Homo sapiens: one gene and its partners. The protein of the gene in region 3 interacts with the protein of the main gene of each other region in a pairwise test. Each region holds a gene or a part of one and is shown on either strand. Other genes may lie near its edges.

What was found.
Region 1: the proteins of UBAP2 (region 3) and TFG interact in binary tests that used the Homo sapiens proteins (3 or more experiments, as listed by UniProt).
Region 2: the proteins of UBAP2 (region 3) and SHC3 interact in binary tests that used the Homo sapiens proteins (3 or more experiments, as listed by UniProt).
Region 4: the proteins of UBAP2 (region 3) and ASB13 interact in binary tests that used the Homo sapiens proteins (3 or more experiments, as listed by UniProt).

Annotation. Positions count from the first base shown.
Region 1 is NC_000003.12:100,712,465-100,719,493, forward strand, and holds part of TFG (protein TFG), read left to right. Parts: intron 1-1,178; 5' UTR 1,179-1,221; coding exon 1,222-1,405; intron 1,406-7,029. UniProt on the Homo sapiens protein: Plays a role in the normal dynamic function of the endoplasmic reticulum (ER) and its associated microtubules. Required for secretory cargo traffic from the endoplasmic reticulum to the Golgi apparatus.
Region 2 is NC_000009.12:89,035,810-89,042,838, reverse strand, and holds part of SHC3 (SHC-transforming protein 3), read left to right. Parts: intron 1-654; coding exon 655-813; intron 814-4,550; coding exon 4,551-4,846; intron 4,847-7,029. UniProt on the Homo sapiens protein: Signaling adapter that couples activated growth factor receptors to signaling pathway in neurons. Involved in the signal transduction pathways of neurotrophin-activated Trk receptors in cortical neurons.
Region 3 is NC_000009.12:33,921,193-33,926,916, reverse strand, and holds the end of UBAP2 (ubiquitin-associated protein 2), read left to right. Parts: intron 1-252; coding exon 253-300; intron 301-2,632; coding exon 2,633-2,711; intron 2,712-2,916; coding exon 2,917-3,122; intron 3,123-3,438; coding exon 3,439-3,538; intron 3,539-3,623; coding exon 3,624-3,731; intron 3,732-3,883; coding exon 3,884-3,951; intron 3,952-4,038; coding exon 4,039-4,230; intron 4,231-4,317; coding exon 4,318-4,413; 3' UTR 4,414-5,224; downstream 5,225-5,724. UniProt on the Homo sapiens protein: Recruits the ubiquitination machinery to RNA polymerase II for polyubiquitination, removal and degradation, when the transcription-coupled nucleotide excision repair (TC-NER) machinery fails to resolve DNA damage. May promote the degradation of ANXA2.
Region 4 is NC_000010.11:5,656,581-5,663,609, reverse strand, and holds part of ASB13 (ankyrin repeat and SOCS box protein 13), read left to right. Parts: intron 1-7,029. UniProt on the Homo sapiens protein: May be a substrate-recognition component of a SCF-like ECS (Elongin-Cullin-SOCS-box protein) E3 ubiquitin-protein ligase complex which mediates the ubiquitination and subsequent proteasomal degradation of target proteins.

The DNA of each region.
Region 1 (7,029 bases), on a different chromosome or scaffold from region 3:
TACCTTGAAAAGTCTCAAGAGATCATTTTCTTGGGGCAGGAGGAGGAAGGAGTTATGCTTGGAAAATGTTCAGCGATTATAGATAACATTCAGGAACATCTTGGCCTTGAGAAGAAGAGATATTAATCCATTATTTTTCCCTTTATTTAATAGCTGTTGAATGACTGTTGTCTGCTAGGCACTGTTGTAGACTCTGGGAATATGGAAAACATAATCGTTTACTTCCTACCATCAAGTGGAAAAGACAATAAAATGTTATAAATTTTTAATGTCTGGTAGTGTTAAGTGCTTTGAAGAAAAATAAAGCAGGATAAGAAGATAATGCCAGGGGAGCCATTTTAAATTAGATGGTTAGGAAAGATCTCTCTCAGTTAACACTTGATAAGGAATCTGAATCATATGAGGGGTATCAGAAAGGGTCAAGACAAAGGGAAAACTTGAAGTATGGGAATAGCAGGGGTGAGTGAAGAAGAGAGGTAGGAAATGAAGTTAAATACTTGGCCAGGGACTGGAGGCCAGATGATTTTATAGGTCTTGCTTTTTGGGATGAGAATGCATTGGAAGGTTTTGAACAGAATGATACTAGGTTTTACTTAACAGTGTTAACTCTGGTGTTCTGAGACTAGATTAAAAGTGGGCAAAGGTAAAAAGCAGGCAGACTGGTTAGGAGTCTTTTCCAGTCATTTAGGCAAGTGATGATGGTGGCTTGAATCAAGTTGATAGCAGTGAAGGTGCTGAAGTGGTTGGACCCCAGAGTTATTTTAAAGGCAGTGGCAACCATATTTTCTTGGCAGTTTGGATGTAAGGTTTGAGAGAGAGAGATCAACCAAGATTTTTTTGTCTTATACAACTCGAAGGAAGATAAAGAAGCCTCTAGGAGAGGCAGGTTTTAGGTGGAAGATCAGGAATTTATTTTTAGATATATTAAGAAAAATCTAAATGGTCATGTCAGATGAACAGTTAAATATGAGAAAAAATAATAGTAGACGTAAAATAAAAGCTTATTTTATTATCCCTACAGTAAAATAATGTTGCCTCCAGACCATTTTAACATAAATATGGTAACATGGGGATAATGAATCTTTTGGAGGCTAGAGTTTCTTAGCATCTAATAGTAGCTTTGCTCTCAACTTTTACGGTATGTTTTGTTGTTTAATTATCAAAACCACTTTTATCAGTCTTTCTCTAGAGTTGTATATATAGAACATCCTGGAGTCCACCATGAACGGACAGTTGGATCTAAGTGGGAAGCTAATCATCAAAGCTCAACTTGGGGAGGATATTCGGCGAATTCCTATTCATAATGAAGATATTACTTATGATGAATTAGTGCTAATGATGCAACGAGTTTTCAGAGGAAAACTTCTGAGTAATGATGAAGTAACAATAAAGTATAAAGATGAAGGTAAGAGTGTTTTTAAAGCTATTTTTTAAAGTCTTTTTAAAAAAAAAAAAAAAAAGACAGAGCCTCTGTTGCCCAGGCTGGAGTACAGTGGTGTGATCATAGCTCAGTGTCACCTCAAACTCCTGGGCTCAAGCAATCCTGCCTCGGCCTCCCAAAGTGCTGGGATTACAGGCATGAACTGCCATGCCTGACCTTAAAGTCTTAAGTATTGTATGTGTTATTTTGCCCATTTTTATTGGACTCTTTCCCATCCTCTCTTCACGGTAGTTGAGACCTCACTTTCTTGTATTGAATGTGATGTTCCTATAGTTACTATAATTCTCTCATCAGTTAAAATTAGCTAAGTGGGGCCGGGCGCAGCAGCTCATGCCTGTAATCCCAGCACTTTGGGAGACCGAGGTAGGCGGATCATTTGAGGTCAGGAGTTCAAGATCAGCCTGGCCAACATGGCGAAACCCTGTCTCTACTAAAAATACCAAAAATTAGCTGGGCGTGGTGGTGTGCGCCTGTAATCCCAACTACTCGGGAGGATGAGGCAGAGAATTACTTGAACCCGGGAGGTGGAGCTTACATTGAGCCAAGATCGTGCCACTGCACTCCAGCCTGGGTGACACAGCAAGACTCCGTCTCAAAAAAAAAAAAATAGCTAATTGGTTTATTAGAAGGGAATTTTAAGTGTTAGAACATTTTCACATACATTTTTTTTACAAGCATTATTTTCTCCTTTTGTCCATATAATTCTGGTTTCTTTTAGCTTAAAAAAATTTTTTTTCTATTCTTATTTCCCGAAATGAAAGGTTTTAGTATGTATTGAATGAAAAAGGATTTTATGGTCAACTAAGTAAGGGAAAGCTGGTTTAAACAAAGACAAAAGTGTTTCTTTATTGTAGGAGTTTTCAGATTATGTAATATGCTTATATACATTTTCAGAAGTTAGTAGTATGCAGTGTTCCCAGACTCATTTGTTGACAAAATTATCTTTATGGAAATAGGTTTTGAATGAAAAATGTTTCGGCAAACACACTGAGTAGAATTATAGTAGTAGACTGTATTTCCTATTCTTCAACCTGCCTTCTTTGTTAATATCTCTGCTGAAATTTTCTCTTTAGGTGGTTACCAGTGTTTTTTACTGTGGAACTTACTTGCAGTGTATTTAATCTTGACCTCACTGTTTAGCACTGCTACCCACACCATCCTTGTTTTTAAATACTTTTACCTCTTAACATCTCTGACACTGCTTAACCTAGTTTTCTTATCACTAACAGTTTTTTCTCTGTCTGTGTTAGGGTTGGGCTTAAAGTAATGCCAGCAGATATAATAGAAATCTTAAAATCTGAGTGGTTTAATAGTTGAGAAATCTTTCAGGGATCCAGGTTGAAAGAAGCTGTTACCTTCAACACATGGCTTATAAGCTCACCATAGGCATTGACATTGGCAAGCAGATGAGTGAAGACAGAGTATGAAGAATCATATGGGAGATTTTACTCACTAGGCCTGATGGTGTTGTATGTCATTTCTGCCCTTATGACATTGGTCAGTACCCAGTTACATGGCTTTGCTAAGATGCAAATGGGTTGGGAAGTATAGTCCCTGGCTGAGCAGCCACTTAGCACAACTTATACTGTGGAGGAGAAGTGTAAATCACTGGTGATCAGTTAAATTGACCATCTAGCTAAAGGTATAATTCTCCTTTGTTTTTGTGATGTGTAGTCTAAGAATACCCAAAACAAATTTTTGAGAGTTGCCCATGTTAAGAAACAATAAAGGATAGTACTTTTTTCCTGTTTTCTTATGCTTATCATACATTGATTTGCACCTCTGTGACTTTGAAATGTGTGTCTTAATTTGATCAGTGAATTTTTTTTTTTTTTGAGACAGGGTCTCACTCTCATCCAGGCTACAGTGCAGTGGCATGATTATAGCTCATCATAACCTTTAACTCCTGTCCCCAGGCAATACTGCCAACCCGGCCTCCCAAAGGCATAAGCCACCATGCCCAGCCTACAATTCAGATTTTTAACTTTTTTTTTTTTTTAGCAAAGTCCCAAGAGTACTTTTTTTTTTAAATTTTGTTTTAATTGACAAATAATAATTGTACATATTTATGGGGTACATAGTAATGTTTCATTACATATAATGGGATTAGATCAGGGTAATTCGCATATCCATCACCTCAAATATTTATTTCTTTGGGTTAGAAACATTCAATATTCTCCTTCTAGCTATTTGAAATTATATAATATGTTATTGTTAACTGTAGTCATCCTATAGTGCTATAGAACACTGGAACTACTTCTATCTAGTTGTACTTTTGTGTCTTTTAATAAATCTCTCCCTATCCCTCTTTTCCCCTACCCTTTGCAGCCTCTACTGTCATCTGTTCTGCTTTTTACTTGTATAAGATCAACTTTTTTTAGCTTCCACATATGAGAGAGAGCATGTGGTATCTTTTTAACTTAATGTCTTCCAGTTCCATCCATGTTGCTGTGAATGACAGGACTTCATTCTTTTTTATGGCTGAATTGTATTCCATTGTGTATATATACCATATTTTCTTTATCAGTTAATCTGTTGTTAGACACTTAGGTTGATTCCATATCTTGACTATTGTGAATAGTGCTGCAGTAAAATGTGAGTGCAGATTTCTCTTCAATATACTGGTTTCCTTTCCTTTAGTTAAATATTCAGTAGTGGCATCGCTGAATTGTGTGTTAGTTCGATTTATAGTTTTTTGAGGAACCTTCATACTGTTCTCCCTAGTGGCTGTACTGTTGACATTCCTACCAATAATGTGTAAGAGTTCCCTTTTCTCTTCATTCTTGCCAGCATTTGTTATTTATCTTTTTGATAATAACCATCCTAACTGGGGTGAACCTTGTTGTGGTCTTCATTTTCCTGATATGTGTGCATTTCCCTGATGATTTGTGATTTTGAGCATTTTTTCATATATTTATTGACCATTTCTATGTCTTTTTTTGAGAAATGTCTGTTCAGATCATTTGCCGATTTTAAAATCGGATTGATTGTTTTTTAGCTGTTGAGATGTTTGAGTTCCTTCTATATTCTGAATATTCATCCTCTGCCAGATGAGTAGTTGTATTTCCTCCCATTCTGTAAGTTCTCTTTTCACTCTTGATTGTTTCCTTTGCTGTGCAGAAAAGTTTTCCAGTTTGAGATAATCATATTTATTTTTGCTTTTATTGACTGCACTTTTGAGGTCTTATTCATGAAATCTTTTCCCGACCTATTAAAGAGGTTATCCTTTTCCTAATGAGTGGTCTTGTCAAAAGTCAGTTGGCTATAGATAACATGGATTATGTTCTTTTGTTCTATGTGTTCTATTGATCTATGTGTTTGTTCTCTTGGTCAATGGGTCTGTTTTTATGTCAGTTCTGTTGGTCTGTGGGTCCGTTTTTGTGCCAGTCCATGCTTATTACAGCTTTGTAGTATATTTTGAGGTCAGTAAGTGTGACACCTTCAGCTTTGTTCTTTGCTCAGTATTGCTTTGACTGTCTGGGGTTGTATGTAGTTCTGTACAAATTTTATGGTTTGTTTTTAAATTTTTATGAATAATTTTATTGGTAGTTTGATAGGGATTGAATTGAATCTGTAAATTGCTTTGAGTAATTTTGTCATTTTAACAATATTTGTTCTTATATAAGCATGGGATGTCATTACATATGTATGCTCTTTGGTTTCTTTCATCAGTGTTTTTTTTTTTTTTTGTAGAGGTTTTTCATCTTCTTGGTTAAACTGCTTCCTAGATATTTAAAAAAATTTTTGTAGCTGTGGTTAATGGGATTGCATTTTTTATTTTTTATTGTATGTGTATAGAAACACTACTTATTTTTGTGTACTTATTTTGTTTCTGGCAGCTTTATTGAATTCATTTATTGGTTCTAAGGGTTTTGGTAGAGTTTTTAGGTTTTTGTTTATATAAGATTATGTCATCTGCAAACAGGGACAGTTTGCTTCCTTCCCAATTTGGATACCTTTTATTTTTTTCTCTTGCATAATTGCTCTGGCTAGTACTTGCTTAACTGTCTTTTTTTTATTTTTTATTTTTTTGTCTTGAGACAGGGTCTTGCTCTGTCTCCCAAGCTGGAGCGCAGTGGTGTGATCATGGCTCATTGAAGCCTTGAACTCCTGGGCTCAAGCAGTCCTTGCAACTCAGCCTCCCGTGTAGCTGGGACTGCAGGCATGTGCCACTGCACTCAGCTTCTTATTCTTAATGTTTATCAAAATGGGGGTCTCACTGTGTTGCCCAGGCTGGTCCTGAACTCCTGGGCTCAAGCGATCCTCCTGCCTTGGCCTGCCAAAGTACTGAGATTACAGGCATGAGCCAGTGTGCCTGGCCTTTAACTGCCTTTTTTCCCACTTGAAGATGCTTTGCCTTTATCTCAAACTGACCTCATTGACTGGCTTTCTCTTAACTACTGTTTAGGGCAAAGGTCAGCAAACATTTTCTTTAATAGATCAGAGAGAATAAATATTGTAGCTTTGTGGGTCACATAAGGCCTCTGTCTCATCTTTTTTTTACAATGTAAAAACCATTTTTCATTCACAGACCTATAACAACACAGGGATTTTGTCCGTTGGTCACAGTTCATGGACCCTTAGCTTGAGGTGTCCTCGTTGTAGTTTGTCTTCCACATTTAGTTACAACTTTGTATTTCATGGTTTTTTTTTTTTTTTTTTTTTTTTTTGAGACAAAGTCTTGCTTTGTCGTTTAGGCTGGAGTACAGTGGGGTGATCTTGGCTCACTGCAGCCTCCACATCCCAGGTTCAAGTGATTCTCCTGCCTCGGCCTCCCAAGTAGCTGGAATTATAGGCACACACCACCACACTCGGCTGATTTTTGTATTTTTAGTAGAGACGGAGTTTCTCCATGTTGGCCAGGCTGGTCTCGAACTCCTGACCTCAGGTGATCCGCCCACCTCAGCCTCCCAAACTGCTGGGATTACAGGTGTGAGCCACCGCACTTGGCCAAAAAGTTTTTGATTGTTTTGATTTGTGTCCGTTAGATTCTGTTAGTAGAGTGGAGGGATGGCTTAGGTAAAGTTCCTGCCATCAGAGATACTCTGTTTCTGTTGTAGGATTCAGAAAAGAAAAAAAGAACAGGAAGTTTTCTTCTTTTACATACATACTTTATTTTCTTTAAAAAATGTGTTTATGAAAATTGAACATTAAACAAGTATGTTATGGGAAGTGGGTCTGGCTATAAGGAGCTAAAAACAGTTATAAAATTCTCAGTTTTGTCATCTTTGCCCAAAATAAATCCAACTAATTAGTGTTAAAGTAGGTGCAGCAGAGCATCCCAGAAGTAGTCTTGTGGCCTCCCCAGGACAGAACTCCTCCCCACCCAACTGTTTGTGAAGACACCCTGCAGAGGTCCCTGATGAACTCCTTGTCTCTGGCTGCTTTTCTGTTCTTGCTTTCTTTAGAGAATGTATTTTTCCCTTAGCCCTTTGAAAGCTTTTGAGACACACAGTTGGTATGCCAATTATAGCATTCTTTATCCCTGAGATCTGGGGGATTTCACGGTCATAAATACACACTGTTTTGAATATATAAATATTTTTCTGGGGAGAGTTGATTGTTTTCATCTTAATATCAAAATGGTC
Region 2 (7,029 bases), about 55 Mb from region 3:
GAACAGCCTTGGCCTAGCCTCAGCACACCCATTGGCTAGCTGTGAAGTCACATCGAGGCAGCATCACTGCCTCAGCAGAGGGGGCTCTTCACTTGCACACCCACCCTGGGCTTCCTTCACAGACCCAGGGGCAGTAACTGCAGCCCTATTTTATAAGGAAGGAGTCTCTCTCAGTTCCTTAGGAGGTACAGAGCTTCTATTGTATTGCTTGAATGAAGTTAATTTATAAAGCATTTGCTTATATTTAAAAAGAAAACAAGAGCAATTAATATAAGGCTTGTGGTCCTTCTGCTCAGTTATTTGATCTTGGAGCATTTGTCAAGGAGAGGAGGTCAGGCATGTTCTGCCTGCCAGGCTCCTGCGGTCTTGGGGCAGCAAGGGCCAAAATTTTTGCTAAGGCCATCACAGTGGAGCCATCAAGGTGTCCACCCTGACATTGGCTGGCAGACCCCATGCTGATATGAAGGACTGGAAAACATCCTAGCTGGGTCACAGCAGTGTGTGGTGACAAGCTCAGAAGAGGAGAATATCACCCATAGGAATCCGAAGGAGGAGGTTTCCCATTTGCAGGCAGAAGAGCTTCTTTGTGAAAGGCTGGGTGGCTTGAATAGTGTCACCATCGTAAAAGAAAAGGGGCTCACTTTCTTGTTGCAGGGTCCTCGGACATCTACAGCACGCCAGAAGGGAAACTGCACGTGGCCCCCACGGGAGAAGCACCCACCTACGTCAACACTCAGCAGATCCCACCACAGGCCTGGCCGGCTGCGGTCAGCAGTGCTGAGAGCAGCCCAAGGAAAGACCTCTTTGACATGAGTGGGTTTCTGTTTGTCTCTGGTTTTCTTTTCTTTTGAGGTTGCTTTTTATCCTGCCTTTTATTTGAAATCTGTGTAATTACTGAATTTTCTGATAGTAGGGTTTTGGTTAATGGTGATGATTAGCTGTACTTTTCTGGGTGATGATTGGGTTTGTTTAAGGCTTTAGGATTATAGCCCTCTCTGTAGTCAAGAGACAGAGCAATTTCCCCCTCTTTTTGGAATTGACGTTCCTCTTGAAGATCTGCAAATGTATTGAGACAATATACATACACAAATGTTTATTTATTCATTTAAATAGTAATTGGCTATTATGTGCCAGCTACTGTATTAGTTGCTAAGGATGCAAAGATGAAATGGCATGGCCCGTGTTTCCACGGATCTCTAGGTCTATGAAGCAGACCAACATTTAACATATAGGCAAGAAATTGCAACACACCTCTCTCTTATGAGGGTTTTCTCTCTCTTTCTCCTCTCCTCCCACTTGTGCTCTCATTTTTTTCTCTCCTTTTTTCTCTCTTGCTCACCTTTTACCTCACTCCAAATATTTACTGAACACTTACCATTTGTCAAATACTATTCTACTTGATGGAGATATACAGGAAAACAAAACCAGCAAAGTCTCTACCTCGTGGAGGTATCTATTACCAGGTAGTGGTACATGCTCCTCAGTTATGAAAACTAAACAGGATAAGGAGAGTAATAGGAATCTATTGCAGATAGCATTATAGTGGGATGTGTACCACAGACTTTCTGTTTGTCATATAGACTGAGGAAATTAAATCGTTCATGAACTGATTAATGAAAGTGAAAATTTTTGTTAAAAAATTTTGAAAGAGCATCACAAGCTCACAAGAGCTAAATTTGCTTTTCATATTCCTCGAGAATTTTATAGGCTGAAGAGGGAGGGAATGGAGACTAGTTCTGAATGATTTTCTACCATGTGCTAAACACTTATTTTTAAATTTTTACAGGTAGGTATTACGATAACTACTGTTATCTTTATTTTACAGAGAAGGAAACGAAGAATCCTAGAAGTTAACTAACTTTATCATTTGTGAAAGGCAGCCTTGCTGGTCCAATATCTGTGATTTGTGGTATTTTGTATGAGTGAGGACAGTGTTAAGTGCCTTTATAATTAGGCAGCCTCATGAAAACAACACTGTTTCTCTCCAGCAAATTTGACTTCCCAGACACACTGGACCCCCATTTTGACTTAACAAAAATAATCTAAGCAAGAACTGTAGAATCTTAATGCTTGAAGCCACCTTCAATGCTAGATCACCTAATTCAGTCCCGCCAGTGCCTTTATTTTTAAAAATGTGAAAACAGCTTGAGAAATGTGAAGCCACTTTTTCAAGATGCAAAGCACAGTGGTGGCTCTCCAAGCTTTTGCTGGAGTTGTTATAGTACCTCCAAACTGCAGTTTAATAGTTCCATGTCTGGTTAGACCATTTTTACTGTTTAATATAGTCAATTTACCAATGACTCCTGGACACGGACCCTAAGGAAAGTTAGATTGGCTGGTGTTTGGGATGAAAAAATGAGAACCAGAGCTACCCTTTTCCCACCAGTTAATTTCTCCTCCTGCTTTCAAAACCTAAGGAGGGGAAACAGGATGTGAAAAGAGCCTTAGAAAGGCTGGTGCCTATTGAAAAGTATGGAACTAAATAAAGCCAGCACTCTGTGTTCTTTATTTTGAACCAGTAGATCTAAATATAGCGGTGCTGATGTGATGATGGTGGTGATGATGGTGCTGCTGCTGATGGTAATTTTGATGGTGGTGGTGGTGGTGATGGTGGTGGTGATGATGATGATGGTGATGATGCTGCTGATGGTGGTGGTGTTGATAGTGATGATGATGGTGATGATGATGGTGGTGATGCTGCTGCTGATGGTGCTGGTGGTGGTGATGATGGTGGTGATGATGCTGATGATGGTGCTGGTGGCAAAGGTGGTGGTGGTGATGGTGATAATGGTGGTGAGATGGTGGTGATGCCGATGGTGGTGGTGGTGGTGGTGGCAATGGTGATGGTGATAGTGCTGATGGTGCTGATGGTGGTGATGCTACTGCTGCTGCTGTTACTGCTGCCGCTCCTGTTGCTGCTGGTGACAGTGATGGTGATGATGATGGTTATGCTGGTGACAATGATGGTGATGATGATGATGATGACAATGGGGATGATGGTGATAATGGTGATGATCCTGATGATGCTGATGGTAATGGTGGTGGTGATAATGGTGAGGGGATAGTGATGATAGTGTTGATGGTGGTGATGCTATTGCTGCTGCTGCTGTTGCTGGTAGTGACAGTGATGGTGGTGACAATGATGGTGATGATGATGGTTATGATGGTAACAATGGGGATGATGGTGATAATGGTGATGACGATGGCGACGATGGCGGTGATGCTGATGGTGGTGGTGGTGCCAATAAAAGTGAATGTGGGGATGGTGGCGATGTTGGGGATGATGCTGACGATGTTGATGATGTAGATGATAGCAAAGGTGGTAATGATGTAGAAACAGTATAAAACAAATGACAATTCCAGGTAATCAGGAAAAAAGTCAGATGAAAAAGAACTTCCACAGACATAATTTTTGCCAATGGTTCTAACTTATTTTTATCTCCAAATCTGTCAAAGATTAATAAGCATCAAAAAGAGCTAATTTTAGTTTCATTTACTCACCTCACTTCTGCCCACGCTGTACTAACATCGAACAAGTTTGGCTTATTTTACAGCATCTGTTGACTATACTGAATGAACTGTGTGCTAGGAGCAATGCTGGGCTCTGAGGGTGTAGTTATGCTCAGGAAAGAACCACTCCTGTTCTTGTGCTGCTTATGTTGTATGTATGTGTATGCTTATGGGTAGACAGCGTAGTCTGAAATAACCATCGCACTACCTTCCACTTGCATAGCACTGTGCATTTTTCAGAGTCCTTTCATACACACTACCTTATGTGAAAATCGAACATCGGGATTTAGTTAGACATGCCTGGCTACTTCTTTTGCTGCTGGTATTTCTTGTTAGAGCAGCAGTCTCACCATTCACACATGCCTTGCACTGAGAAGTGTGCTCTGAAGGGGATGAAACCAAGTATGGTCTCAGGCACTCATGTGAGAGCCTCGTTCCACAGGGAAACAAGTGAAGGTTAAGGGAAGGTGGAGCTCCTAGCCTGGGGCAAGTCACACAAGAGGAACCCAACACCCGTCAGCTTTCTCTTTTAAAAATTTGCCTGATGCAAAGATTTTGAAATAAACCTTTGGTGGATTGGGCTCAGGTTTTGCATAAAATCAAAGCTTTGTAGCTTGTCTTTCCCTTTGGTATTGGCAGATTTTTGTTCAGAATTTGTTAAAGAGGCTGGCTGAAGTTCCAGAGAAAGTACGTGGCATGTGATATTCATGGCCTCTTGCAGCATGCAAAAATGAAGTCATTCCAGCTAGCTAGACAAAGGGTGTGCTTGACTCCTTGGCACATAGCACAACTCCCAGCTGTCTTGGGAAAGCAGACTCATCAGAAAGTCATGCCAAAATTTGGGCTGTGCTTTTCAATGCTTGTTATGATGGCTCTTGTTATATTACCAGCCAGTTAGTTGTCTCCATTGGTTTTTGTTTTCCCCTTCTGGAGGAGTTGCCTTTGCATTTCCATCTCTCTCACTGTATTTTTTTTTTTTTTTTTTTATCATTTGCTCTTCTTGGGATTGACTTGTTGCTGGTCAATATTGTTGATGACAGAACCTTTTGAAGATGCTCTCAAGAACCAGCCCTTGGGGCCCGTGTTAAGCAAGGCAGCCTCCGTGGAGTGCATCAGCCCTGTGTCACCTAGAGCCCCAGATGCCAAGATGCTGGAGGAACTGCAAGCCGAGACTTGGTACCAAGGAGAGATGAGCAGGAAGGAGGCAGAGGGGCTGCTGGAGAAAGACGGAGACTTCCTGGTCAGGAAGAGCACCACCAACCCGGGCTCCTTTGTCCTCACGGGCATGCACAATGGCCAGGCCAAGCACCTGCTGCTCGTGGACCCAGAAGGCACGGTGAGCACCCAGTGGGGGTGGGGCCGGACCTGCCAGTGGGTGCAGACCTGCCTTAAACAGTCTCCACTTTGTCAAATGCCCTCCACATTCCCACCTCTATCCACAAGTGCCTACTGAGTCCTCCAGGGGAACGCAGGGACAGACAACTCCTGTCATCAGGCCAGAGCCAGGAGCCAGGAGCCAGTGGTCAGGGCCCCACACAAGTTTTAAAACTTTTAGAATTATGGCCTAGGCTGAAAGCCTTGACTTTTATGTCCTTTAAAGTAAATAAATACAGAAACTGAGAGCATTTTCCTTACAAACACATTTCTAGTAGACAAGGAAGTACAGGCTCCTAGGCTTTTAATATTTATCTTGAATGCTTATCTCGAAAAGTTGAATCACTGAGGATTTTGTTCTAAGGCTGTAAAATGTGATGATCAGTAAATGAAACCCCCATTGCTAAGTCTCTTGTTTTCCCGTTTAGAGAAGTAACTCCTACTGATGTTGGCCATCCCTGGCACTACAGCTGTATCTGAATAATCCCGTAGGTTTGGCTGAATTTTTCATCTTCCCGTCAAGAAAGACATTCATCTTTACCTGGGGCATAGTCCAAGAATTGCTAAGTTTAATAAATGCAGTTAAATCAACCTAACCATTGAGTGAAATTCCAGGATTGTTTAAAACCTTTTATCCAGTGAAAACAACAAAGCAGGGTAGAGTTATTTAATAGGAGTTAAGAACATTGCATTTTCTGATTGACAGGGAGGGATGAAGCCTTTGTCTCAGTTGGACTGGAACACAATTAAACTGCATGTGTCGGGGGTGGGGGTGTTACCCAAGACAGTTTATTACCTCAGGTGCCAAGACTCAGTTGCCTGAATACCCCAGCTCCTGGCACTCTGAACAATTCCCCTTTCTGTCTCTGCAGAAGCAGCCACTTCCCACTTCCAGCCAGTAGCTAGTTCCTCTTTCCCTTCCGCGGAGACAGCCACTTCCTCATGAATGTAACCTATCTCCTTCCAATCCACCTTCTTTTTTTTTTTTTTTAACATATATGTACTTCTGAGAAAACATATTTTGTGTTTGTGCCTTTTAGAAATTTGCAAATTAGCCAGGCATGGTGGCGACTGCCTGTAGTCCCAGCTACTCAGGAGGCAGAGGTGGGAGGATTGCTTGAGCCCCGTAGGTCAAGGCTGCCCTGAACTGTGATCGCAACTACTCCACTCCAGCCTGGGTGATGGAGAAAGACTCTGTTTCAAAAAAAGAAAAAAGAAGTTTGCAAACATGTTATTGTTCCACAAATCCCATTTTGTTTCTTCCTTTTCCACCACTGTATATGTTGTTGAGATCTGTCCATGGTGGTTTCTGTTTATCAGATCATTACTGTGGTGGGCTGCCTGGGGCCCGTCACGTATGCAGTCCACATGTCACTTACTGAGCTCTCTTGAGAAGGATGACTAAGCTGCTACAAACTCTCACGCATGTTTTTCTCTGTACCCGGGGACGGTATCTCTGGGACAGGAGCCAAGAGTGGCGTTTTGGTCACAGGGTACACGTACATTGAATTTCCCTAGGGCTTGCATTTGCTTTCAGAATGGCTGAGCTACTAAGGCGCACACCAGCAACATCCTTGCTCTTCCTTGAGAGAGTCTCTAGGTTTGCTAGTTTGTGGGAGTAGGGAGAAAGGGAATACCTCATTGTTTGATTTGTAATTCTTTGGTTGCACTTCATTAGTAAATTAGCAGATTCTTCCTGTAAATTTTATGTTCTTATCTTTTCTCCATGTTTTTCTTTTGACTTTCAGATTGGGCTTTCTTGTTGAGGTTTTCAGCAACAGAATTTTCACATGTATTCTCTTGCTTTTTTCATCTATCTGATAATTTTGTCTGTGATACTCTTCATCAAATAGAAGTCTTTCATGGGATGCATCCGAATCCATCAGGTTTCCCCCTTTGTGCTTGATGGTTTTGACTTTTAAAGTTTTTCTCCCCCACAAATCACAAATATACTGGATTTGAATATATATTTTCTTTTGTTAGCTTTATAGTTTTATCTTTCACATGTAGACTTTAATTCCAACTGAAGGTACTTTTGAATATGAAATGAGATAGAGACCCAATACACACACACACACACACACACACACACACACACACACATCTATATATATATATATATATTTTGTTTGTTTGTTTTTTGCT
Region 3 (5,724 bases):
GCGTTGGGCCCAGGTTGCCCACCTTGAGCTGCCCTTCCATCCCTGAGCACCCCCGTCTCTGCCCCACTGAGCCCTGGTGGTCTTCTTCCATCTAGACTCCGTGAAGGCAGGATCTGTTCCCGTAACAGCTAATCCAGATCCCATTCCCGGGTGTGTTAGAGCCCCCCAACCTTGTTTTGACTCCTAGATGGACCTGGGCTTCCCAGGGTGTGGTATGTGGTTCCTAAAATACACTTTCTGGTTCTCACACAGATCTATGGCTATGACGAGCTCCAGATGCTGCAGTCACGGCTGCCAGTGGTGAGTGGGGTATGGACTGGTCGGAGCAGAGGGTTCAGAATCTTTTACATGTCCCCCCTCTTATGGTCTTGGCTGCCACACTCTCTGGCCCTTAGGATCCTCTGCCTGAGGAACCTCTCAGCACCACTACTGAGAAAGCTGTTTTCATCTGGCGGTTGTGCCAGGCGTGACCATAGCTTTAGCACAGAGTATCCAGTGCTCATCCCTGGGAAACATGAAGGCCTTTGGGACCTGGGGCCCTGGTAGGCCATGTCCCCTGTTAAATGTTGGTCCTTATCTTCCCTCCTCCATCTTGTTTTCTCTCTCTTTTTTAAAAAGAAAAACCATATGACACAAGACATGGAGGTTGCTTACGTGGCCCTGGAGTTTTATACTGTCTTCCTCTTCCTCAGAGTACCATATAGTGTCTTTGGTCTGAGATGGCCAGTGACTGCTCTTCTGCAATCAGCTGAGTGAGTGGCTTGAGCTGATGGTCTTTAAGGTCTCTTCTGGGTCTGGCCTCCCATCTAGATTTGTGAGAATGCCTGCCCTGGGACGTCCCTGGTGGTTGCAGCCTTACTCTGAGACCAGGGTTGCCTCTTTCTTCTGACCGTTGGTGCCAGAATGCAGTGTGGGCCTTTCCTGGGATAGCCACATGAACAGAACTGTGGGGACAGAGGGGAATAGGCCCGCTCCTTGCCCTGCCCATGGGCAGGACTTCCTCCTGGGAGCCACTGTCTTCTTGCTCTGCCATTTCCCAGGGCACTTGTCAGAGAGTTGCAGGCAGTTTGGACACCACCTCTGCTGGATACAGTCTTTCCTGTTGCTGGAGGAAGAGGCTTTCTCCCTTGTGCAGTGATGCCTTCTTCCCCGTGGGTGTTGCTCCCTTCTCTGCTGCACCACAAAGAGCTGACGGAGCTGCTCTTGTTTCAGAAGAGTAGCCCTTTCCACTGGCTGGCCGTATTTCCAGAAGCAGAGGCCTAGCCTGGGAGCGGAGCGGCTTCTCCCCACTGTGCAAACCAGCAGCCCTTTAATCTGCCGGCCAAAGGCCCAAACTGCAGGAGGTGGTGCTGAGCCCCGGGATTCATTCTGCTTCAGGGGCTCTCCGTGGTCTCCACACTTATTCACAGCACTCTTTTGGCTTTTATCACTTTGTGCCTTAGAGAAAACACCCTCTGGAGCCCACCTTTTGAGATATGTTGCTCTTTCTATCCCTCGGGTTGTTTGTTCACCTCTGCTGCTTGTGAGCCTAGTTCCTGCCTGGAGAATTCTCGTGTTCTGTGAAAGTGCTCCCCCTTCTGGGCTTTCTCTGCTCCCGTCCTCAGTTGTGCAGCTCTGTGTGTTCCCAGCTCTGCCTCTTCCGGGGGTTCTAGGCTGCTATGGGTTTCCGGGAGGTTTCCTGGAGGGTGTGAGTGCCATTCCCAGCCAGGATGGCTCCTTTCTGGGATCGGGCACAGCCCAAGGGCTTTGCCTTTCCTCAGGGGCCAGGTGTGTCCAGGAGTGCGAGGCCCTGGATGGTGAGTGAGGGTCAGGTCAGACCTCCCCTCCTCCACGAAGCTCCACTGTGCTTTGCCGTCTCTGTCTCCACACTTTGTTGTATCTGCCATACTTCCCCCAAGTCCTGGGCCAGGGGTGTCCAATGTTTTGGCTTCCTTGGGCCACATTGAAAGAATAATTGTCTTGGGCCACACATAAAATACACTAACATTAAAGATAGCTGATGAGCTTAAAAAAATTGCAAACAAATTTCATGTTTTAAGAAAGACGAATTTGTGTTGGGCCACATTCAAAGCTGTCATGGGCCGTGGGTTGGACAAGCTTGTCCTAGGCCATGTCAGTGTTTTGAGAGCAGTGTAGGTGGTGACAGGCCAGTTCTGGGCTTCACCTGGGGTCCTGCTTATTCCCGTGCCTACCTGGCACTGCCCCCTGTCCCCCCTTAAACCTTTCAGGCCCCTGCACTTCTGTTGCCTCCTTTTTCAGGTCTGCTCTGTTTAGTCAGCTTTCCTAGCTGCTCTAGTCTCTCACACAGAAAAGCCAGCGAAGTTGGTTCAGCCCGAGGCATTCACACAAGCACCTGCCTGTGGTGTCAAATGGATGTGTGAGGCTTGGTCTCCAGCAGCTCTGCCTGGTGAAGCTGCAGGGTTGGCCGGTCTGTGTGCTTATGTGTTAGGCAGGCCGCCTAGTTGCACACTCTTCCGAGGGGCACCATTTACTTGGCGTTCCCTGGGACTGCTGGCTCTCAGGCATGGAGTCTGTTTCAGGAGTGTGGCGTCACCACTTCCATGTGCTGGTTCTGCTCTCCTGGGAGTCAAGCAGGGCCAGTCGCTGATCAAGCCTCCCTGGTCTCTCCTAGGACTACTATGGAATTCCCTTTGCTGCACCCACAGCGCTTGCCAGCCGAGATGGGAGCCTAGCTAATAATCCATATCCAGGTGAGTTTGCTCAATGGATGAGGAGTAGCCCGGGGCCGGCCTAGCGCGAACTCCAGGAGCTGGGAAGCAGCAACAGCAAGCTGAGAGAGGCCTCTTAGTAGCCTGTGCTGAGCTGGCAGCCAGACCTGTTCCTGTTTGCAGAAGCCAGTGTGGCCTTTCTCTGGTTGGAGGAAGGGCAGTGGCTGGAGTCAGTGCTCTTTCCTAGGTGATGTCACAAAGTTTGGCCGTGGGGACTCTGCATCCCCTGCACCCGCTACCACACCAGCTCAGCCACAGCAGAGCCAATCACAGACCCACCACACAGCCCAGCAGCCCTTCGTGAATCCTGCACTGCCACCTGGCTATAGCTACACTGGTCTTCCCTACTACACAGGCATGCCCAGTGCCTTCCAGTATGGCCCCACCATGTTTGTGAGTATTTCAGAGGGTGTGACTGTGTCTCCTGGCCTTGGGTTGCTGGCAGGTGGAAACCTGGGACCTATCTTCCAGCAGGGAGGGAGGGTTGTGATTCCACTCCGTCTTACCTGGTCTTCAGAAACTGTTCAGGCTGGGGACAAGGTCACTTTTCCCCTGCTGTGTTTAGATCCAGCATGTGTTGCACTAATGAAAACACAGGTCCCCTGTGGTTGTGGGTATGTCACCTGCTGCCTTAGGCTCTGGCAGGGGTACCTGACCAGCCTCAGCTTGCCTCTTCCTACACTAATACCTCATCTGCTTGCCCCCCCAGGTCCCTCCAGCCTCAGCCAAGCAACATGGGGTGAACCTCAGCACTCCCACACCTCCCTTCCAGCAGGCCAGTGGTTATGGCCAGCACGGCTACAGTACAGGTGAGGGGTACTTCCCAGACAGAGACACATGGGGTTAGACAGGCTTGCCTGGCTCACACTTGCCTCTTGTACCCTGCCACGCTAGGTTATGACGACCTGACCCAGGGGACAGCAGCAGGAGACTACTCCAAAGGTGGCTATGCTGGATCATCGCAGGCACCAAACAAGTCTGCAGGTTCTGGGCCTGGCAAAGGTAGTGTTTACCTCTCCTTTCCAGGATAAGGCCTGGAGTGGTGGGCTCCTGCCTGATCCCCTCTCAGGCAGGGCAACCCCTGAGTGATCCTGGAGGTGGGGAGCCTGGAGCTGGGAACAACTGCTGTGGGGAACAACTGCTTTTCCTCCTAGGAGTATCAGTGTCTTCAAGCACCACTGGTCTACCTGATATGACTGGTTCTGTCTACAATAAGACACAGGTGAGGGACAAAGGTGGGTTGGGTGTATAGGTTTTTGAGAGGTTACAGCCCAACCTGACCTTCACCATTGTCTTCTTTGCCCTGTAGACTTTTGACAAGCAGGGATTTCATGCAGGGACGCCTCCACCTTTCAGCCTGCCCTCGGTCTTGGGCTCCACTGGGCCCCTGGCCTCGGGAGCGGCCCCTGGCTATGCACCCCCACCATTCCTACACATCTTGCCAGCCCACCAGCAGCCCCACTCACAGCTGCTGCACCACCACCTTCCGCAGGATGCACAGGTGAGTACAGTGATGGAGGCAGCCACCCTACTCTGGGCCAGGGGTTCTGCTCCAGCCTTGACAGCCTTCCCTTCTCCTCTTCCTCAGAGTGGCTCGGGTCAGCGCAGCCAGCCCAGCTCCCTGCAGCCCAAGTCTCAAGCCTCCAAACCTGCCTACGGCAACTCTCCATACTGGACAAACTAAACCCAGAAGAGAGGGGTGGGCTGGGGCAAGGCTTATCCTGGGCAGGAGAGAACACACGAGCACGTATTTGGGAGCCCAGTGCCCTTTCCTAGAATTCCCGACATGTGTCAGCCATGCCTCTGTGGGGAGTCTGCCTCCCAGACTGGCTACTGTATGTAATGTATTTATGTATGTATTTGTAAATGTGATAGAAGTCTGGGGGGGAGTTGGGGGATGGCGGCAGATGTTAGCCAGGTCTGCCCTCCCCATTCAAGCCCCTTCTCCACTGTAGCAAAATAAGCACCCCCACCCCATCTGCCTTCAGGTCTTCTTCACAGCCTGCACTGCCCAGTGGGCCACTAGGGGCAGTCTCTGGAAGGGCTGGTTCAAGGCTGTTTGGGTATAGGGGTCAGGTACCAATGAAGAATCACGACTTGTCTCACTCCTTTGGAAATTGTTTTCTTTCCTGTGTAATTACTTCATACCTCTGTTTTTGAGAAACTGTTCCGTTTGTCATCTGTCATGGTCTCCTTCCACCAAATCTTCATCTGGGAATAGCAGCGGTATCCCTCCACCCAAGTATGGCCACCTGTTTGTCTTCATATAGAACAGGGGCTTCTGGTCTGGTCATGTCCCTAGAGACTTACTAGAGACTGGCTGACCATGAAAAAAAAAAAAATAATCTGAGTTATTCAGCCAGTCAGCTCCCCTTTAAAAATCTAAGGTATCTCCAAGCAACACATCTCCATTCTAGTTGTCTTGAACCACGTGGGCAACTGTTTCAGGGGTTTTCTCTTGCCCAATCCCCACCTAATAAAGTTCTGAGAGCATGCATGGTCTCTGTGTGGTGTGACTGAAGGGCAGCTCAGGGCAGAAGCCCTGGACTTCACAGGGCTAAAGGAGATCCCACATGGTCATAGTCTTCTGACACAGGCTATAAAGGCTTGAAATGGTTTTCCTTTTTACTGGACCCTCTTGGCCCAAATCACAATGGCTGTAAGGACAGCTAAACCTCCTTACAGGGCCCAGGCCATGTTGATCAAAGTTAACCTGGCTTTTCTTATAGCTCCTTAAGAGACTTAGGGATAGGGCAGTGTCCCACAGAGCCCTGTCCACTGGATACCAGGGCAGGGTAATTTCTTTTCCAAATCTCAGTGGACTTTTACAATCTGAAGCAAAGCCAAGAACTGAGAGCAGGGTTCTAGGCCTTAAGGGAGAGTATGAACAGGTATACCTGTCTTTTGCTTGTCATCAACTGAACATAATCTTGATTGGCAGTCAAAAGCTATGGTAGAACACGTGACTAGTGAGGGTGTCATGAGGTAGGCTGGT
Region 4 (7,029 bases), on a different chromosome or scaffold from region 3:
TAGGTGATTTAGGGTGAAAAGCGTCCCTCAGGTCCCTTAACTGAGACAGGGAGGATGCAGGATCAGAGCTCAGGGGTCCTGAGTCAGGGCCTGAGCTCCCACAGTGCCTTGAGGGTGGGACTGGGGGACCCTCCCCATGCTCCCTGGGCCATAGCCTTTGGGGTGGACCAGGGGCAAGGGAGGAGTCGGGGTAGCAGATAATTGGGTGAGTGATGAGGGAGTCAGGGGAGGAGACATTGAAGGATAATGCAGCGAATCCAGTGTGGTTTTAGCGTCCTGCAGGTGGAAGGAAATGCCTGTTATTCACCAAGCTCTCCTGACACCTTCGGTCCTTTCTCCCAGTTCCTTTACTCCTTAGCCCACCTATTTTCACCTCTTTTCTCCTTGTCTTCTGCTTTCATTTATTCTTTCCCTTTCTTTTCTCCACTCTTACTGAGTTTTGACCATTTTGTCCCTCTAAGAAGGCAAATACTGGCATTTTTGCTTCATTGAACACATCTTAAAATCAGTCTGCTGTTTGACCTCAAGTTTACCGACAAACTATATTTTGGGGATTCATAATGAAAACATTTAAAAAGACATGGTTGAAAAATATCACTGTAGCAACAAAACACTGAGCCCAGACTTGTAAGTGGGAGTTTCTACATAGAAAAATAAAGATCCATATTTTTTTTCCTTGGGTTTCAAGGACACTAAAACTGAAATTTGAGCTGCGCTATTAAAATTTGGTGATAGTGGTTAAGTGCCATGCGTTAGGCACCCTCTTTGTGCTGGGGTTGTCACGTACACTGTCTTTAGTTGTCACCATGAGATCCTTCATTTATCTTTTCCTCTGTGGTCTCTTTGTCTTTGTGGATTTAGCCCCCATTTTATTCCCTTACCGTCACTTGTGTGTGGTTTGGACAGCAGGCAGAGATGAATGGATGCTACATTTGGCTTTTTCTGGGAGTGTTAATCATCCAGGATCTCATCTCTTCTCTTCTCTTCTCTTCTCTTCTCTTCTCTTCTCTTCTCTTCTCTTCTCTTCTCTTCTCTTCTCTTCTCCCCTCCCCTCCCCTCCCCTCCCCTCCCCCCCCCTTCTCGACAGAGTCTCAGTCTGTCGCCCAGGCTGGAGTGCAGTGGCACGATCTCAGCTCACTGCAGTCTCCACTGCTTGGTTCAAGCGATTCTCCTGTCTCAGCCTCCTGAGTAGCTGGGATTATTACTGGGATTACAGGTGCATGCCACCACACCCAGCTAATTTTTGTATTTTTAGTAGAGATGGGGTTTTGCCATGTTGGCCAGGCTGATCTCGAACTCTTGACCTCAGGTGATCCGCCTGCCTCAGCCTCCCGAAGTGCTGGGATTACAGGCGTGAGCCACTGCGCCCAGCCCATCGTCCAGCATTTCTAAGGCCTTTTCAGTTCTGACAGTCAGCGCGTGTTCATGAATCCTTAGCTTTCTGGGACCCTGGGGGGCTATGTCACTCAGGACTCTTGACTTTTCCCTGAGAGCTGAGGATGAGCCCATTGAGAGCAGCATCAGAAAACCCTCCCTGGGGGCTTCCGGTGCCTGCCTTGGTTCTTCCAGGGTGGGTTCCCCAAGTGTGTGCTCGCCCGCCCCAGCCCGGCTTTATGGGTGGGTCAGGGTGGAGGGCCCACCCTCACCATTTCAAGAATGCTTACTGGGGTTTTGCAGGGAGGGCTTCTTACAGAGGCTGCTGGTTGTTTTTGACGCAGAAATGACATTTCTGCAGCCAGGACCCCAGACTCCCCTTGGTGATTTACTCGGAACAAAATTTCTGACTCCAGCAACATTTAAGAGTGCATTCTGGGCTGGGCCTGGGGCTCATGCCTGTAATCCCAGCACTTAGGGAGGCCAAGGCGGGAGGATCACTTGAACCCAGGAGTTTGAGACCAGCCTGGGCAACATGGTGAAACCCTGTCTCTACAGAAAATACAAAAATTATCCAGTGTGGTGGTGGTGCATGGGCCTGTAGTCCCAGCTACTTGGGAGGCTGAGGTGGGAGGATCACTTGAACCTAGGAGGTTGAGGCTGCAGTGAGCCCTGATCACACCACTGCACTTCAGCTTGGGTGACAGCGAGACCCTGTTTCAAAAATAAATAAATAAACAATAAGAAAACAAAATAGGAAAAAAGGTGCATCTTGGGTATTTGACCTGGATTCAAAGCCAGCATGCTACTGGATCAGCTTTGTCTGGAAGGTGTCCCTGGTGGCATTTGAGAATGCTCTTTGTTGGAGTGGGCCCTGACCCTGGAGAGGCCCCAGGCTCGGCGGGGCGGGGTTGGGGGCAAGTGGCTCTGCTGCTTTTATGGTTGCAGTCCCTGTGTGGGTCAAGTGAGGCCCGCCAGTGTGGGTGCAGGCAGGGCAGTGTGGAGGATGGGCTCTGGAGGTGCCCAGCTCTGCAGTGTGCAGGGGCCAGCAGGCCAGCTGCCTCCTAGACACAGGCTCTCTAGGGGGTGGCCGGGCCTGGGCACAGAGCTGCCACTTGGGCCCAACGAGTGGGGCTCTGGCTCTGGGATGACTGAGGAGATACTGGCAAACCAGCTGCCTAGGGGGAAAATAAAGAAAAAGAAACAAAAATAAAAGTCTGCTTTGCTGCTTTCCCTGGTCTAAATACTCACATCCTGGCTGCTTTCAAGCTGCTGGTGGTCTCCGGCCAGCAGAACCTGGCTGTGCAGCAGCCAGCTGGCGAGATGGCCCGGCACACTGCTGGGTGGCTTGCAAGGCAGGGAGCGATGGAGGGGCTCTGGTCTCAGAGGGCCCGGGAACTGAGCAGAAAAATTGGGCAGAGACTCAATCAGTCACCCGACTTAGGTAAGGATTGAGTTACTGGAGCTGGAATGCAAGATTGGGGGGCTTGCTATGGAACAAAGATGAGATGGTAGAACCCGCACCTGCCCTCCCCACAGGACTGGTAGGGTAATAATGACAGCAATGATCCTGGAGCCATGGCAGTGCCTGTTACTCACAGCATTTACAGGTGGCCAGGCACGATTTTCTTCAGTCTTCACAGCACCCATTTGAGGAGAGAGGAGGCCGAGGTTTGGAGAGGGTAAGCTGTGAGACGAGCTTTGAACTCACGAGCAGGGTGGTTCCTGCAGCTTGCCCCTGTAGAGTCTGCTCCCTGAGGGTAGGCTGACCCTGAGCCACTTGACCTGTTCAGCCAGGGCTTCCTAATCTCAAAGGACAGGTCAGTCCTGGGGCAGGGCACAGCCTTAGATGGGAGGGTGTCGGGGCCCCAGCAAAGGGGCAAGAGAGGGGAAGAGGAGCTGGGGTCCAGAAAGGTCCACACCTGGCACACGGTCCTAGCCAGTAAGGTCGTATCGTGGGTGGAAGAGTGGAGAGAACGTTCTGAAGCACGTGTCATTCCTTCTCAAGGTGACGTCTGCCGTAGTCTGCAGTAGATACATAGGTGACATCTGTGAAACTCTAGTTTTCAGGGCAAAGGCTTTTGCTTGGCTATTCATGAGCTCAGGCCTGCAGGCGGCAGGTAAACAGGAGGAGCCATAGTGTGTAACACCGTGACCCTGACCTGAAGCAGAGGAGGAAGTGGGTAGAATCCAGCCATCAGGACTGGGTCATGAGTCACCAGGGCTGCAGCCTTGGCTCTTGTTGCAACACAAGTTCTTCATTTAATGGATGCACGAGCCCCCGCTTGGCCAGAGTGTGCAAGCATCATGTTAGGTCTCAGGCCACTGTCCTGGGCTGGAAAGTGGAGCAGGGGACAGAACCTAGCGGCAGGGGTCCAAGTTCAGTCTGGCAGGGGAAGATGCGTCTGGGGAGTGCTTATTCATTCAGATACCTGCACGAGCAGCCTGTGTGGGGAGGCTGGCTAGCTGTGGTACTATTCCCAAGGTGACAGGGGATGGCCTTAGGGAAGGCCCAGGGAAGGGAGAATGCTGATCAGCTGGTGGTGGGGCAATAGTGTGGAGATGGCGTGGGGGGGTGGGCTGCATGCTCGGGAGGCTTCCTGAAGGAGCAGGGGTCCCCTCAGTCGAGGAATTTCAGCCGGAAGCAAGGTGGGGAATGGGGCTGAGAAGAGCTTTCCAGGCAGGGGAAGGAACAGCATACGCAAAGCATGGGACTTGCAGCCACTGGACTCTGTGTGAGTCGGTAGAGTTTGGTGTCACTGGACACGGCTGTGTGCATGACGGGGAGCCTGGGGACAGGGCCTGTGACTGCATGGTCGTGGACCTTGTTCCTTGCCTGGGTTCCACCCTGGAGGAGGGAGCCCTTGTGAGCAGGCCCTGTCAGACTGGCTTGTCAATCATCTGCATTAGGGAGGGGGCAACCTATTATGTGGCAGCAGTGGGTGGGATTTAGGGGCAGAACGTGAGTCCCGGAGGGAACTCGCCAGCACGGCATGGAGTCTCGGGTTTCCAAGGCGGTGCTCCGCCAAGGGAGAGGGTGCAGGGATTGGGGAGGGGGGGCGTCTTGCCACCACAGGGAGCCTGGCACAGGGGCTGGAAGCAGCCTGCAATCCATCCTGGCCAGTCCATTCACTAACAGACAGCATTTCCTGTGCTCACTCCTCATCCATTTAAGGTCCGTGACCATAAGCTGTCCTTCCCGATTCTTTTCACCTGGGACACTGACCCTGCCATTGCAGGGCTGAGTCACATTGCTCTGTGGTGGTGGGTGCTGGGGGCTGATGTTTATGAAGAGAGTGGGTCTCTTCGCCCCCTGGAAGGGCCATCGGTGGTTTGGGGGTGTCAGGAAAGGTGACGAGGTGCACCCCAGGCACCTGCTGTCCTCTAGCCTTCTATCCCTCCCTTCCCCACTGTAAATCTCCTATGAGGACAGCCTGCGGGTGACAGTCCCCCCATGCTCTAGGTCCTCCAGCTTCTGGTTACTTAAAAATTTTTTTTTTCTATTTTTAATTGTAGTAGAGAGCACAGAACACAAAAGTTACCACCTTAGCCATTTCAAGTGTCCACTTCAGTAGGGTTGAGTACATTTACATTTTTGTGTAACAGATCTCTAGAACTTTTTCATCCTGTAAAACTGAAATTCTGTCCCCATGAAACACTAACTCCCCATTTCTCCTCCCCCAAGCCCCTGGCAACTACCTTTCTACTTTCCATCTCCATGAATTTGACTACTCGAGGGACCTCACATAAGTGGAATCATACAGTATTTGGCTTTTCAGAAATGGCTTATTTGGTTTTGTTTTTTTTTTTTTTTTCAGACAAAGTCACCCAGGCCGTAGTGCAATGGCACGATTTTGGCTCACTGCAACCTCCACCTCCTGGGTTCAAGTGATTCTCCTGCCTTAGCCTCCATAGTAGCTGGGATTATAGGCATGGGCCACCATGCCCAGCTAATTTTTGTAATTTTAGTAGAGATGGGGTTTCACCATATTGCCTGCCTCGGCCTCCCAAAGTGCTGGGATTAGAGTTTTGAGCCACTGCACCTGGCCAGAAATAGCGTATTTATTTATTTATTTTTGAGACAGAGTCTCTCTCTGTCACCCAGGCTGGAGTGCAGTGGTGTGATCTCAGTTCACTGCAACCTCTGTCTCCTGGGTTCATGCGATTCTCGTGCCTCAGCCTCTGAGTAGCTGGCACTACTGAAGCACCATGGATTACAGCCACCATGCCTGGCTAATTTTTGTATTCTTAGTAGAGACAGGGTTTCCCCATGTTGGCCATGCTGGTCTCGAACTCCTAACCTCAAGTGATCTGCCCGCCTCGGCCTCCCAAAGTGCTGGGATTACAGGTGTGAGCCAGCGTGCCTGGCCTAGAAATGGCTTGTTTGACTCAGCATAATGTCCTCAAGGTTCATCCATGTTGTAGCATGGGACAGGATTTCCTTCATTCCCAACGCTGAATAATATTCCACTGGACACTTGGATTGTTGAGAATAATGCTGCTATGAATGTGGGTGTACAAATGAATCTCTCCTCAAGACCCTGCTTTCAATTCTTCTGGAGATATGCCCAGCAGTGGAGTTGCTGGATCATATGATATCCTATGTTTCATTTTTTAGGAACTGCCATACAGTCTTCCACAGTGGCTAGACCATTTTATATTCCCATCATCAGTGCACAAGAGTACCACTTTCTCCACATTCTCGCCAACACGTATTTGGTTTTTTTTGATAATCCTAACAGGTGTGAGGTAGTATCTTATTGTGGTTTTGATTTGCATTTCTTTAATGATTAGTGACCTTGAATACCTTTTTTTTTTATGTTTGTGGCTGTGTGCATCCTGTTTAGAGAAATGTCTGTTCAACTCGTTTGCCCATTTTTAAACCTGGTTATTTGTTTTTTTTGTTTTTGAGTTGCAGGAGTTCTTTATATATTCTGGACTAACCCCTTTTCAGATATATGACTTGCAAATATTTTCTCCCATTCTGTGGGTTGCCATTTCACTCTGATTGTGCCCTTTGATGCACGGAAGTTTCTTTTTTCTTTTTTTCTTATCATGTCTGCTGCTAATTTTTGCCCTGAATTGCTGCAGTAAGACTACAGCAGCTGATGTGATTCACTAGAAATAAGTTGCATTTCCTTTGTAGACTGGTGATACAGAGAAATAAAATTAGATTTTCTTTTAAAAATTTTATGTCTAGTTGTAACTGAACCCAGATTTGGCTGCTTACTGCTCAAAAGCCAAATACGAGAGACAAGAGTTGGTGGCAGGTTTATCTGGAGAGCCAGCAAACCAGGAAGATGGTAGATAAGTGTCTAAAGTGCCGTCTAAGTCAGTACAGGTTTCGGGTTCTTAATTATGTTAAGGGCAGTGGGAAAAAGAGGCTGTTGGGATCAAGAGGTAACCAAGGACCAGTGACATCTGGGCACCAGTGAAGGTCCTAGGAGGTTGGGAACATCTTTGTCCTTGATCAGGTCGCAGTGCTCCTATAAATCTTTAACAAAACATAGCTAGTTGTTTACATGCTTTCCTTTTAATCCCAGAGTTAATTTCAAAGCTACACGTTTGCTCTTTTTGCATATTATCTTAATGCTCTAAAATTATCCTAGCCTCTGTGTAAGAATGGATAAAGGCCCCTCAAACAAAAATGTTAGT